2 separate regions of the Homo sapiens genome follow, and region 2 is linked to region 1. Evidence: fine-mapped expression QTL. A gene starts in region 1. The other region holds a variant in brackets. All regions are shown on one strand. Distances are from middle to middle.

The links.
Region 2: its variant is fine-mapped to the expression of LINC02016 in lung (TOPMed, PIP above 0.99).

The regions. Positions count from the first base shown.
Region 1 is chr3:127,387,650-127,393,018 of GRCh38, forward strand. LINC02016 (long intergenic non-protein coding RNA 2016) reads right to left here and starts at 3,021. Exons shown (of 5, transcript NR_110147.1): 1 at 2,797-3,021. LOC105374094 (a long non-coding RNA gene) reads right to left here and starts at 1,249. Exons shown (of 3, transcript XR_924459.3): 1 at 760-1,249. RefSeq lists an enhancer at 4,043-4,854.
Region 2 is chr3:127,444,820-127,450,188 of GRCh38, forward strand. No RefSeq gene overlaps it. Among named protein-coding and RNA genes, the nearest start is that of LINC02016, 57 kb to the left of the region's middle. The variant G/C (reference allele first, on the strand shown) is at 2,735.

The sequences.
Region 1 (5,369 bases):
CCTCGCCAGTGTCACCCTCGCCAGTGTCACCCCCACCAGTGTCACCCCTGCCAGTGTCATCCCTCCACCAGTGTCACCCACCTGCCAGTGTCACCCCCTCCCAGTGCCACCCACCTGCCAGTGTCACTTGCTTGTCAGTGTCATCCCACCCACCAGTGTCATCCCCCCGCCAGTGTCACCCACCCACCAGTGTCATCTACCTGGTGGTGTCATCCCCCCGACAGTGTCACCCACCCGACAGTGTCATCCACCCAGCAATGTCACCCACCCAGCTAGCACTTGCAGTGCAAACGGGTTTTGGACCCCTGCCTGTGCTTCCCCTGCCCCTGGGGACCTGGGAGTGTCCCATTTTGCATCTTCGTTTGCCCTCCCTGGTTTCTCCTGGGCTCTCTGCTGGCCCTCTTGTCTCCAGGCCTAGGTCCCCAGATAGCTCTCTGTCTTGTTCACCCCACACTGGGGTCCAGTAGTAATACCCACTGTGTCCGTTCCCTGGTGTTCTGTATCCCTTCCACCCCGCCTTGTCTGCCACTCCTGAGCCATGTTGTCTTCCAGAAAATGCTACAAAGACAGCCATCTCTCTGGATCCCCCAACTCATCCCCCGGCTTCTACCATCCCTGCTCCCCAGCTCCACCCAGAAGACGCTGGCAGGGCATAGAGCCTTCGCAGGACACAGGTCTGTCTCACTCAAATCCTCCTCCTCTCCCTGTGGTGAGTTGCAAATAAAAAGGTCACAAATGTCTTTACTCCCCTATGCTCACCCCCTTGCAAGATGACCGTGTGCTCTGCTTCTCCCGTCAGGAGAGTAGGGGCTCCTTCCTTCTACCCCCCAGCCTGGGCCTGGCCAAGGGGACGCTAGCAAATGATGCAAGAAGAGACTGGAAAAGAGCCTGGCTTTACAGCCCTCCTTGACTGCCCAGGGAAGAAGCCTGGGCTGGGCTTCTTGAGGATAGAAGACTGGCACCCAGCCCCGGGCCTCTCAGCGGCCACCCAGACATGTGAGCGAGGCTGCCACAATGATCCAGCCCCAGCTGAGCCCACGGAGACCAGAACTCCCCGGGCAACCCACAGAACAATGAAAAAATTACTGTCGGTTGTGCTGCCTTTGGCCCCTGGGTTTTGGGAAGGCTTGCTATGCCATGAAAGCTAACTGACGTACCCCCTCCTGCTTCTCCAGCCCCAGAGACTCTGTTTCCTCCTGAGAGGGAGAAGCTGTCACTGGCTCCACACCTGCTCCTTCACGTCTCTGAGAAGCTTTGAGACCCTCAGGGCATTTGATAGGGGCACACCAGGCTCTTGCAAATTAAAAGCATTGACTCCTGAAATGGAAAAACTAAGACTCTAACTCTTGTTCACCTGCAGTAACTTTCCTCCATAAGGCCACCGGATGTCTCATGGTCAAGTTTTTTTTGTTTTTTTTTTTGAGACGGAGTCTCGCTCTGTTGCCCAGGCTGGAGTGCAGTGGCGCGATCTCGGCTCACCGCAATCTCCGCTTCCCAGGTTCATGCCATTCTCCTGCCTCAGCCTCCCAAGTAGCTGGGACTACAGGCACCCGCCACCACACCCAGCTAACTTTTTGTATTTTTAGTAGAGACGAGGTTTCACCGTGTTAGCCAGGAAGGTCTCGATCTCCTGACCTCATGATCCGCCCGCCTCAGCCTCCCAAAGTGCTGGGATTACAGGCATGAGCCACCGCGCCCAGCCCATGGTCAGGTTTTAATAGGGGAATAACTACTAGTCAAAGAGGAATTAGGATAGACAAAAAAATAATTTTTAACACACCAAAATACGATCTCATCACATACTTATTGAGTGCCCGCTAGACTCCGGATGCCTGGTAGGAGCCAAGGACACAATGAAGGCGAGGAGACCCAGACCCCACTCTCCTGGGCTCTCTGTCTGGCCTGGGATCCAGCTAGCCCTCAGGTCACCACAAGAATGGTGACTCATCCATCCATTCACTCTTCCGCTCGCATGGCAAGTATTTCCTGAGTCCCTACAGTGCGCCAGGAACTCTAAGAGTCACAGGGCATACCACCGTGAGAGCACCAAGATGTGCAAGCCCCTCGGGAGAGGGGACAGGGCAGGGTCATCCCATCTGGGGCCAGGAAGGGCTTCCTGAGCCAGTGCAGATGACGCTCAAACCCAAAGAATGTGATGCAGTTAACTGGACAAAGACTTGGTAGTGGGGTGCAGGGGAGCAGAGGAGAACGTTCTAGAAGTGCTAAGGCCCAGCAGTGGCTGGGAGGGCCTGAAAGAAGGCCAGAGTGTCTGGGGAACACAGATGTGGGGGAGCCCTGGTGGGAGCCTGGAGGAATGGGCAGGGCCAGCTTGAAGGGTGTCCTTGGACCCTGAGTGAGGATTCCAAAGGCTTTTGGGGAGACCAGGTGGGCATTAACCCCGTCAGGCCACTCCCACCTGCTCCACCTGGTTCCAGGTACCAGAGACACCCCATCAGCAGGCACAGGGGCCCCAGCAGCAGCCACATCTCCACAGCCTGACCTCCCACCCCCACAGCTCACCCCAAGCCCAGGTGTTCTGAAAACAGCCCACACCTCTGCACCCCCAGCGTAGCCCACCCTTTTGGTCCTCTTCTTGTTAAAAGACTTACCCTAAAGAGGCAGCTCAGACTCCACCTCCTCCAGGAAGGCTTTTCTGATGCTGTGCAACCCCAAGCTGGATGCTACTGATGGTTTGTGCTGGCAGAGCTGCCCCTATGTCCCTTGATTCTATTCCTGTATCACTATTGACAGTCCCACAGAGCAGTGACATCCCCGGGTCAGGGGCTCTGCACTCACCTGGGATGCTCGACCCTGCATGGGTCACAGTGGCAGCTCCAGAACCGCTAGGTAGGGTGGGGGCTAAATCCCGGCAGGCCGGGTGTCACTATGCTGTGCTGCATTGGCACTGTGTTCTCCTTACACAGGTGACCTGGGCAGGGGCTCTGAGGAGCCGGTGGCGAGTCTGAGGTCTCAAGTGCCCAGGCCCTGTGTGCAGCTACAGAGTTAGGGGCCGGCAAGTGCAGGATTGGCTGTGGAGAGGCACAGGCTGAATTTGGCCCAGCGTAAGCGTTCTGGGAATGTGTGGTGTTGCTACTGGGACTTGGGCTGCCTTGGGTGTGGCTGCATACCGTGGGCCCAGGGAGGTGGGGAGTGGGGACTGCGGGGAGTCTGGGGAGTCACTGAAGATGCAGGTGCTGAAAGACACAGCCATCTTCAGGCAAGCCCGGGCTGAAGGGTGCAGGAACTCAGACTGTCCTGGGGGTTGGGGTGTTTCCCAGAGGTGCTCGTGCTGGGTAAAGGCCAGGGGCAAAGGGAGGAAGCCCAGCCCAGGGTTCGTCCATGCCACACCTCAGGGTCAGGCTCCCAGGGAGCCATGCTGAGCATGGCAGTGAGCACAGAGGTTGGAGCACCACGTCCTGGGGCCCACACCTTCACCTCTTCATCCATAATAGACACAGTGGGACCCCCTGGCCAGTGGGGAGGAGGAGGCACAGAGGCTGCGGGAAGCTCCCAGCACAGGACCCTGGGCTCCATAGTGTGGGTGCCGTTTCCTGCAGAACAGGGACTCAGACATGGACAACCAAAAGTTATCAGAATTGGGGTGCTTAGTAGGGACTAGATCCTGTACAGCCAGCCAAAGAGTAACTAAGCGCCCACTGTGTTACAAGTGCTTTGTCTACTTAGAGGTGAAGGCACTTACCTCTGTGGCAGATGCAGGGATGTGCCTCAGACCTGCTTCATGGAAGGATACACTGCCCAGCTGCTAGGGGCTGTAACCAGACGTGCTCAGCATCACCCCCAGTTGCAGACAGACAGCACCCCTGTGCCATCCTCCCCAGGCCCATGTCCTATGACTGAGCCACACAGGCCTGGACAACCCCCTGCTCAGGACAGCTCTGGTCTACTCCAGTCCCAGGCCCAAAGGGAGTCCTGGCTGTCCTTGTGCCAGCAGTGAAGCTCGGTGTCTCCTCTGCCTGCTCCTGCTCCTCCCTCCCTGCCCCAGACCCGGTCCAGGCCCTCCTGAGAGCCCCTGTAGCTGGTCCCAGGCACCGACACCAGGCTTCCATGGGGCTGATAACCAGCGGGCGAGGTGACAAAACACCAAGTCAGAGGGAGCTTTCCAGGCTCTGCTGCAGGAGCTGTGCAGGCGAGGCAGAGAGCAGCCTGGGGGTGTCCAGAAGGATGTCCCTCGAGGACAGACACTCACATGGAGCCCTGGAGGCTGCAGAGGACACAGCCCTGCTGTGACAGCCAGGAAACAGTATCCCAAGCCATGGGGACAGCAAAGGCTAGGCCGAGGTCTGATGCAGGAGGAGCTGGAGGGCAGAGGGCGGGCGGAGCACCGCCTCGGGAACGAAACAGCTGGGGAACCTGGAGGGCACCTGGATGGTTACCTCTAGGTCACTGTGGAACTGATCTGCCTGCATCCTCCCTCCTGTTTCTGGGGCTGGCCAAGGCACGCTGGAGCTGGGGCTGGGGCTGGGGCTGGGGCTGGAGCTGGCAGGCCGAGGTTCCCACCCCACAGGCACCGGAGATGAGTTGGTAAGAAAAGGGCACCCTCTGGCTGCACTGATTCTGCTGAGGGCTCGGAGGCTCATCTCCCTGGGGGCAGCCCCGGGCGCAGCTGCTCTAAAATCACCCACTCAGCCATTTCACAGGCAGAAATCCTTCGCTTCAGGCATTTGCATCCAAAGCTGTCCGCAGCCTACTCCCCACCGTGGCTGGGTTTAATCTGCTAGCACTGGGGCTGTGGGGCTGGGACAATTAATTAAAGATCCCAGGGAGCAGCCAGCTCTCATTAAGTCCTGCATCAGATGGGAGGGGTGCTGGGGAAGAACACTCTTGCCGAGACTGCACTTTTGCCCCAGCCAAGTATTTTCTCATCTATTATCTCCATCGATCCTGGCCGCGGCTCTAAGAAGAGGGGATTATTATCACCATTTTGCAAGTGCAGAAATGGAGACTCGGGTTAAGTTGTGTGTTAGAGTCTCCCAGCTCCAAAGCAGTGGGGCTGAGATCCACACCGGGCACACTCGGGCTCTCTCAGGATCTCCCTGGAGGTAGGAAGAGCAACACTGCAGTGATGCTCAGGAGACCATGCAGGCTCCACTCCCCAGGGCTGCAGAGAATGGGTCCCAGAGGGAGCTAGGGAGGACAAATCGGGTTCCTGGAAGGCACCTTTGACCCTCAGATGCTATGGGGGTGTAAACTTTCTTCACTGAGGAAGAATTTGTGATTTCCCCCAACATGGGGAAGGGGCAGAGAATTCCCTGGGCATGGCTGGGGCTGACTCTGTGCTGGCCACTCCTGGGGACCCAGAGATGTGTCTTCCTCCCTCCTCACCTGTGCAGAGGAGTTGTCCAAAGACA
Region 2 (5,369 bases), 57 kb after region 1:
CCACCCTGGAATCTACCACACACCTACCATACCAGGGCCCACTGCTCCCCACTCCAGACCCTTCTGCTGCAGGCTCTGGCCTAGCCTGCAGGCCTCCTCCCTACCCCAGCCCTTCCACCTGACGACCCAGTGACCAAGTGGACGACCCATGCCAAGTCCAGCACCCTGGGCTCTCAGGATCTCAATCCTCCACTCCATCCCAGCCTCCCAGGCCCTCAGCCACACCTTTAGGGTCAGCACCAGAAACCTACTGGATCTCCAACCAAATACCAGTTCTCCCTGATTGCTTTCATCCAAGCTCCACCATACCTATTCCTCCCCTTTGCAGAAACTCTCCCCCAATGGGAAGCTGTGAATCGTAGGGGTGGGCTCTGGAGCTGGACTGCCTGGGTTCAAATCCCACCTGCGCCAATGACTGGCTGTGTGACCTTTCTGTGCCTCGATTTCTTTATGTACAAAAGGCCTGAGGATGGCTCATCTTCATTCATTCAATAGTTGCTGAGTACCTGCCGTGTATCAGCCCCAGGACTGGGAACTGGGCATGAACCACGTAAAAGGAGACAAAACCCTTGTCCTCACGGAGGGAGAAACAACAGAACATGATAATTAAAATACACAACATAGCAAAGAGTGGTGGTTAAGCACTTGCAGCAAGACCAGGCTGGCCCTGACTGACCCAGCCAGAGCAGACACAACGAGCCACTTTTAGATTCTGACAGTGTGTGACCTGCATGGACAATGAAAGGAAGAGTCAGGGACAGTGTCATGTCCAGGGTCCCTGTCCTGCACACCTAAAATGATGCCACCAAAGCCAAGGGCCTGGACGACCACAGTCCGAGTTGGGTCTGAGTTGTGGGACACCCCATCACCGAGGAACCTGACACAGCTTGACTGCAGTTAAGTGGCTTTGAATTCCACAGCTCTATTCTGCTGGGGACCCAGGAGGCACTGCGGAGCTGCCTCAGCACTGCCTCCCAGGGGAGAGGCCTCCATCCTCCGGTGTTCCAGGAGGACTGCAGGGTGTCGTGCCAAGCTGGGTTAGGCTGTGGTTCAAGGGTGGGAACCTTTGCTGCGTGGCCCTGTGGCTGCATGCAGGGCGCCAAGGCGGAGCCGTTCCCTTATGCAGGGATGGAGGTGGTGTTATCTTTTTAAATTGGATGCCCAGAGAAGGCTTCACTGAGAAGGTAAGCTTGAGCAAATGCCTGAGTGAAGTGAAGAAGCAGGTTATGTGAGTATCTGGGAGAAGATGGTCCCAGGCAGAGGGAACAGCAGGATGCAAGGCCCTGAGGCAGGGTGGGGCTACATACCTGTGGAAAGGGAAGAAGTCACAGTGGCCAGGGTGGAGTCAGGAGTGGGAGGAGAGGCAAGAGCCAGTCATGCAGCGACAGGTGCCTAAACATGTCGAGCCCTGAGGGCCAATGTTGGGACTGAATTCTACTCCGAATAAGGTGAGAATCGGTATGGGGCTTAGGGAATAGACTGAGGGGCAAGGAGATGCCTCAGGAGCTTTCACAACAGTCCAGGCAAGACATAATGTCACTTGGTCCAGAGTGAAGGAGCAGAAGTGGTCTGATTCTGCTAATATTTTGAAGGTGGAGATGACAAGCTCTGGGTGGGGGATCATAAGAGACAAAGAGCCAAGAATAACACCAGGTTTTTGGCCTAAGCAGTCAGAAGGAAGAATGATGGGAAAGGCTGCAGAAGAAGCAGGATGGGGAGAGGTCAGGGGCTTGGTTTGGGACCTGTTGAGTTTGAGGCTCCCAACTGACCTTCAAGTGCTTGTCACATCGGCAGGAGGCAGGGTCATGGACTAGAGTGGACACAGGCCCAGGGTACAGCAAGGGCCAGGTGTGCAGCAGTCACCCGCAAAGGTGAGTTCCTTCTCCTGTTGACAGGTCTACTTTCTTACCTGTTAGAGGAAAGTGTCTCTTTCTCTCTTTCCCTCTTACATTCCAGGATCCATGATTCAACCACCCCCCTCGCTCTTGCCCTATCATCCTGCCATTGTACCTCCCATCTGGCAAGAACTCCAGCCTCAATGGATTCATCTGCCTGCCTGCTCTGTGCCTGTGCCAGACTGTGGGACACTGTTGGAAAGCATCAGACCACGCGGGGGACTGGTGCCACCATGCATGCCCTGGGAATTGTAGGCACTCCCTCACCACCCACACCCACCAAGTTCAGGCACTCTGACTCCTTCTTGTATCTCTTATCCATAGCTCTCCTCCATCCCCACTGGCTAAATAATAGCCACCAAAGTTGTCCATGCCCACACTGGAGTGGTGGTGCATGTCTGTAATATCAGCTACTTGGAAGGCTGAGGCAGGAGGATCGCTTGAGGCCAGGAGCTAGAGACCAGCCTGGGCAACACAGTGAGGCCCCATCTCTAAAAATGGTTTTAAAAATATTCACCAGGCATGGTATTGCATGCCTGTAGTCCCAGCTACTAGGGAGGATGAGGCAAGAGGATCCCTTGAGCTTGGGAATTTGAGGATACAGGGAGCTATGATTGCACCACTGCACTCCAGCCTGGATGACAGAGTGAGACCCCATCTCTAAAAAACAAACAGCTGAAAGATGTCTGTGTCCTAATCCCTGGAACCTGAGAATATACCAACTTACGTGCGAACAAGATTTTGCAGATGTGATTAAGTCAGGGATTTTGAAATGAAGAGCTTATCCTGGGTTATCCAGGTGGCCTCAATGCAACCACAAGGGTCCTTATAAGAGGGAG[G/C]CAGGAAGATCAGAATCAGGGAGAAGAGATGTGATGACGGAAGCAGAGGCTGGAGTAATGAGATTTGAAGACGGAAAAGAGGCCACAAGCCAAGAAATGCAAGTGGCCTCTAGAAGCTGGAAAAGCTATGAAAACAGATTCTCCCCTAGAGTTACCACAAAGGAAGGCGACTTGGCCAACACCTTGATTCTAGTCCAGTGAGGCCCATTTCAGACTTCCGACCTGCAGAGCTATAAGGCAATAAGCTGGTGTTGTTTTAAGCGTGGAGTTTGTGGCAATTTGCTATAGCAGCCTAGGAAACTAACACATTCTGCATTAGGTCAGACGCATCTTCTCCCACCTGGCCTACCACACCAGCCTCTTGCCAGAGCTCTATTGCAAGTCATTTTGGTCCGCTGCTGTCAGAGGATCCTGCGAAAGCCCGATCCTATCAACCGTTTTCTTATAATCAAGCCTCCCCACCACCTTTCAGCTCTTCAGTATGCCATCTAAGATTTCATGACCTGGCTCTCCTGCCTTCCCCTCAGCCCATTGCTCGTCACTCCCCTAGCGTTAAGGAGGGCTCTTGCTATGGTAAAAAGCATAATCTCATCTCACACAGGCATAAATAAAAGGGAAGTGATCTATTGGCTACTGTGCCAGAAAGGCCTTGGGACTTCTGGCACAGCTGGATCCAGGAACAGTGCCAGGAATTCATCTTTTGCCACTTCTGAGCTACACCTCCCTCTACTGTTGGCCTCATTCTCAGGCAGGCTCTCTCCTCAAGGTGAAAATACAGCCCCCACTGCCCTGCGGCTTGAAGCTTTCATTCTACCAGCTAAGCCACCCCCATAGCTCCAGCAAAAGTCTCAGGCATAGCATGCATTAATTGTGATTGGCTCTGCTTGAGTCATGTGTCCATGCAGCCAGAGAGATGCAAGTCTCTCATTGGCTAGGGCTCAGTCATATGCCCATACGTGGACCCAGGGGGCGGAGCCAGACCTTCCCCAATCACATAGACTGTGGATGAGAGAGAGTGGGTTCCTAAAAGAAAATTAAGAAGAGAAATAGGTACTGAGGAGGCAGGAATGACAATGCCCCTTCCACACACCCGGAGTCTCAGCCCCATCCCACGCTAGTCTTTGCCCAAATGTACCACGCTCCCTCCTTACTCTCTGCCAATCTCTCTGCCTCAAATGTTCCTCTTCCTCTCCTTGCCTTCCCTGTACCTTCTCCAGGAAGCCTCTCTGACCCCCAGACCTTGCCTGCTGTCTCCTTTGAGCTGTCACAGTCCAGTGCTTCTCCCTGGCTCTCCAGGACACACTGACACCATGTGAATGGCTGACTCCCACTGGTCCGCCTCCTACCCCAGTGGCAAACATGGTGGTTACTGTTATGGAGTACTGACCATGTGCCAGGCACCACCCCAGTGCTTTGTGGGCTTTATCTCACCTAATCCATACAACACGCCTGAGAGATGGATACTATGCCTAATCTCTAGTTCAGAGGGAAAAAACTGAGGCACACCCAAGATATGGAAAGGCACCCAGGCTGCCTGGCTGCAGACCTGTGCTCTCAGCCTTGATGCTACAGCCCTTTCTGTAGACCTCAGCAAAGCAGGAAGGGAGTTTGTTCACCTCTGAGTCCCCAGTGTGATTCCATTACAGCATAATTAAGACCACAGTTTCCGGAGTCAAGCCAATCTAGGGTCCATCCTGGAGGCTGTGACTCTTTGAGACATTAAAGTAAGGTGTATAATATTCCCTTGGCTCAATTTCCTCATCTGCGGAACAGGATAACAATAGTACCTACCTCTTAAGTTTGAAGCAAAGATGAAAGAAAAGAATGCTTTAGCATTCAGCACAAAGCCTGGCACGTAGTCAGAGCTCACAAAGTGTTAGCTGTGATGAGGCTGAGGGATGATGCTACCAGCAATTTGCTCCTTGATATATTGGGGAAATGGAGGGCTCTTCTCCCTTCCCTCATGTAACACACAGCCAGAAAAATTGATGGTCAAGGGGACTCAAGCCCTCTCTAGTTCTGTTTAAAACCCTTGCCACATTCTCAGGGAGCTGAGTTTTTGATACCTGGCTCTTCTCAAAAGACTGTGCCCCCAAGAGCAGGAGAAACTGGTCCAGCACGGTGGTTGCCATGGAAACCATTGAATGTAAATTTCATGTTCTGCCTTGCCCAGCTAAGCTATCGATTCAGCAAGAGGGAGAGAAATTGGGAGCTGTTTCCTTCCCAAAGTAAAAGAGAAAGTGCAGACCCAAAGTGAAAACAGAAGGAAGTGTGGCCAGGGGATCGAAACCTAGTTGGAAAAAAGATGGAACAGGGGTAGGCTGAGGGAGCAGGGAGGGAGGGAAGGACTAGAGAATCACTTTCCACTCCCATTAACCTGCTGGCACAGGTAAGTAGCCAGCTCCTAACACAGGCTCTAGAGTGATCTCGGCCCTGGCCTCAGCACTGGCACCTACCAGCTGCGTGATCTGGGGCAAATGGCTGACCCTCTATGAGCCTGTTTCATTATGTATAGAAACATGGATAAAAATTGCAACCTGGCAAGCTTGTCCTGGGGACATCATCACCCACGCATCCCAAGGCCTCTCTGGCATGCTGTCTTCTTCCTTTTTAGCCTGAAATTCCCACCATTGTT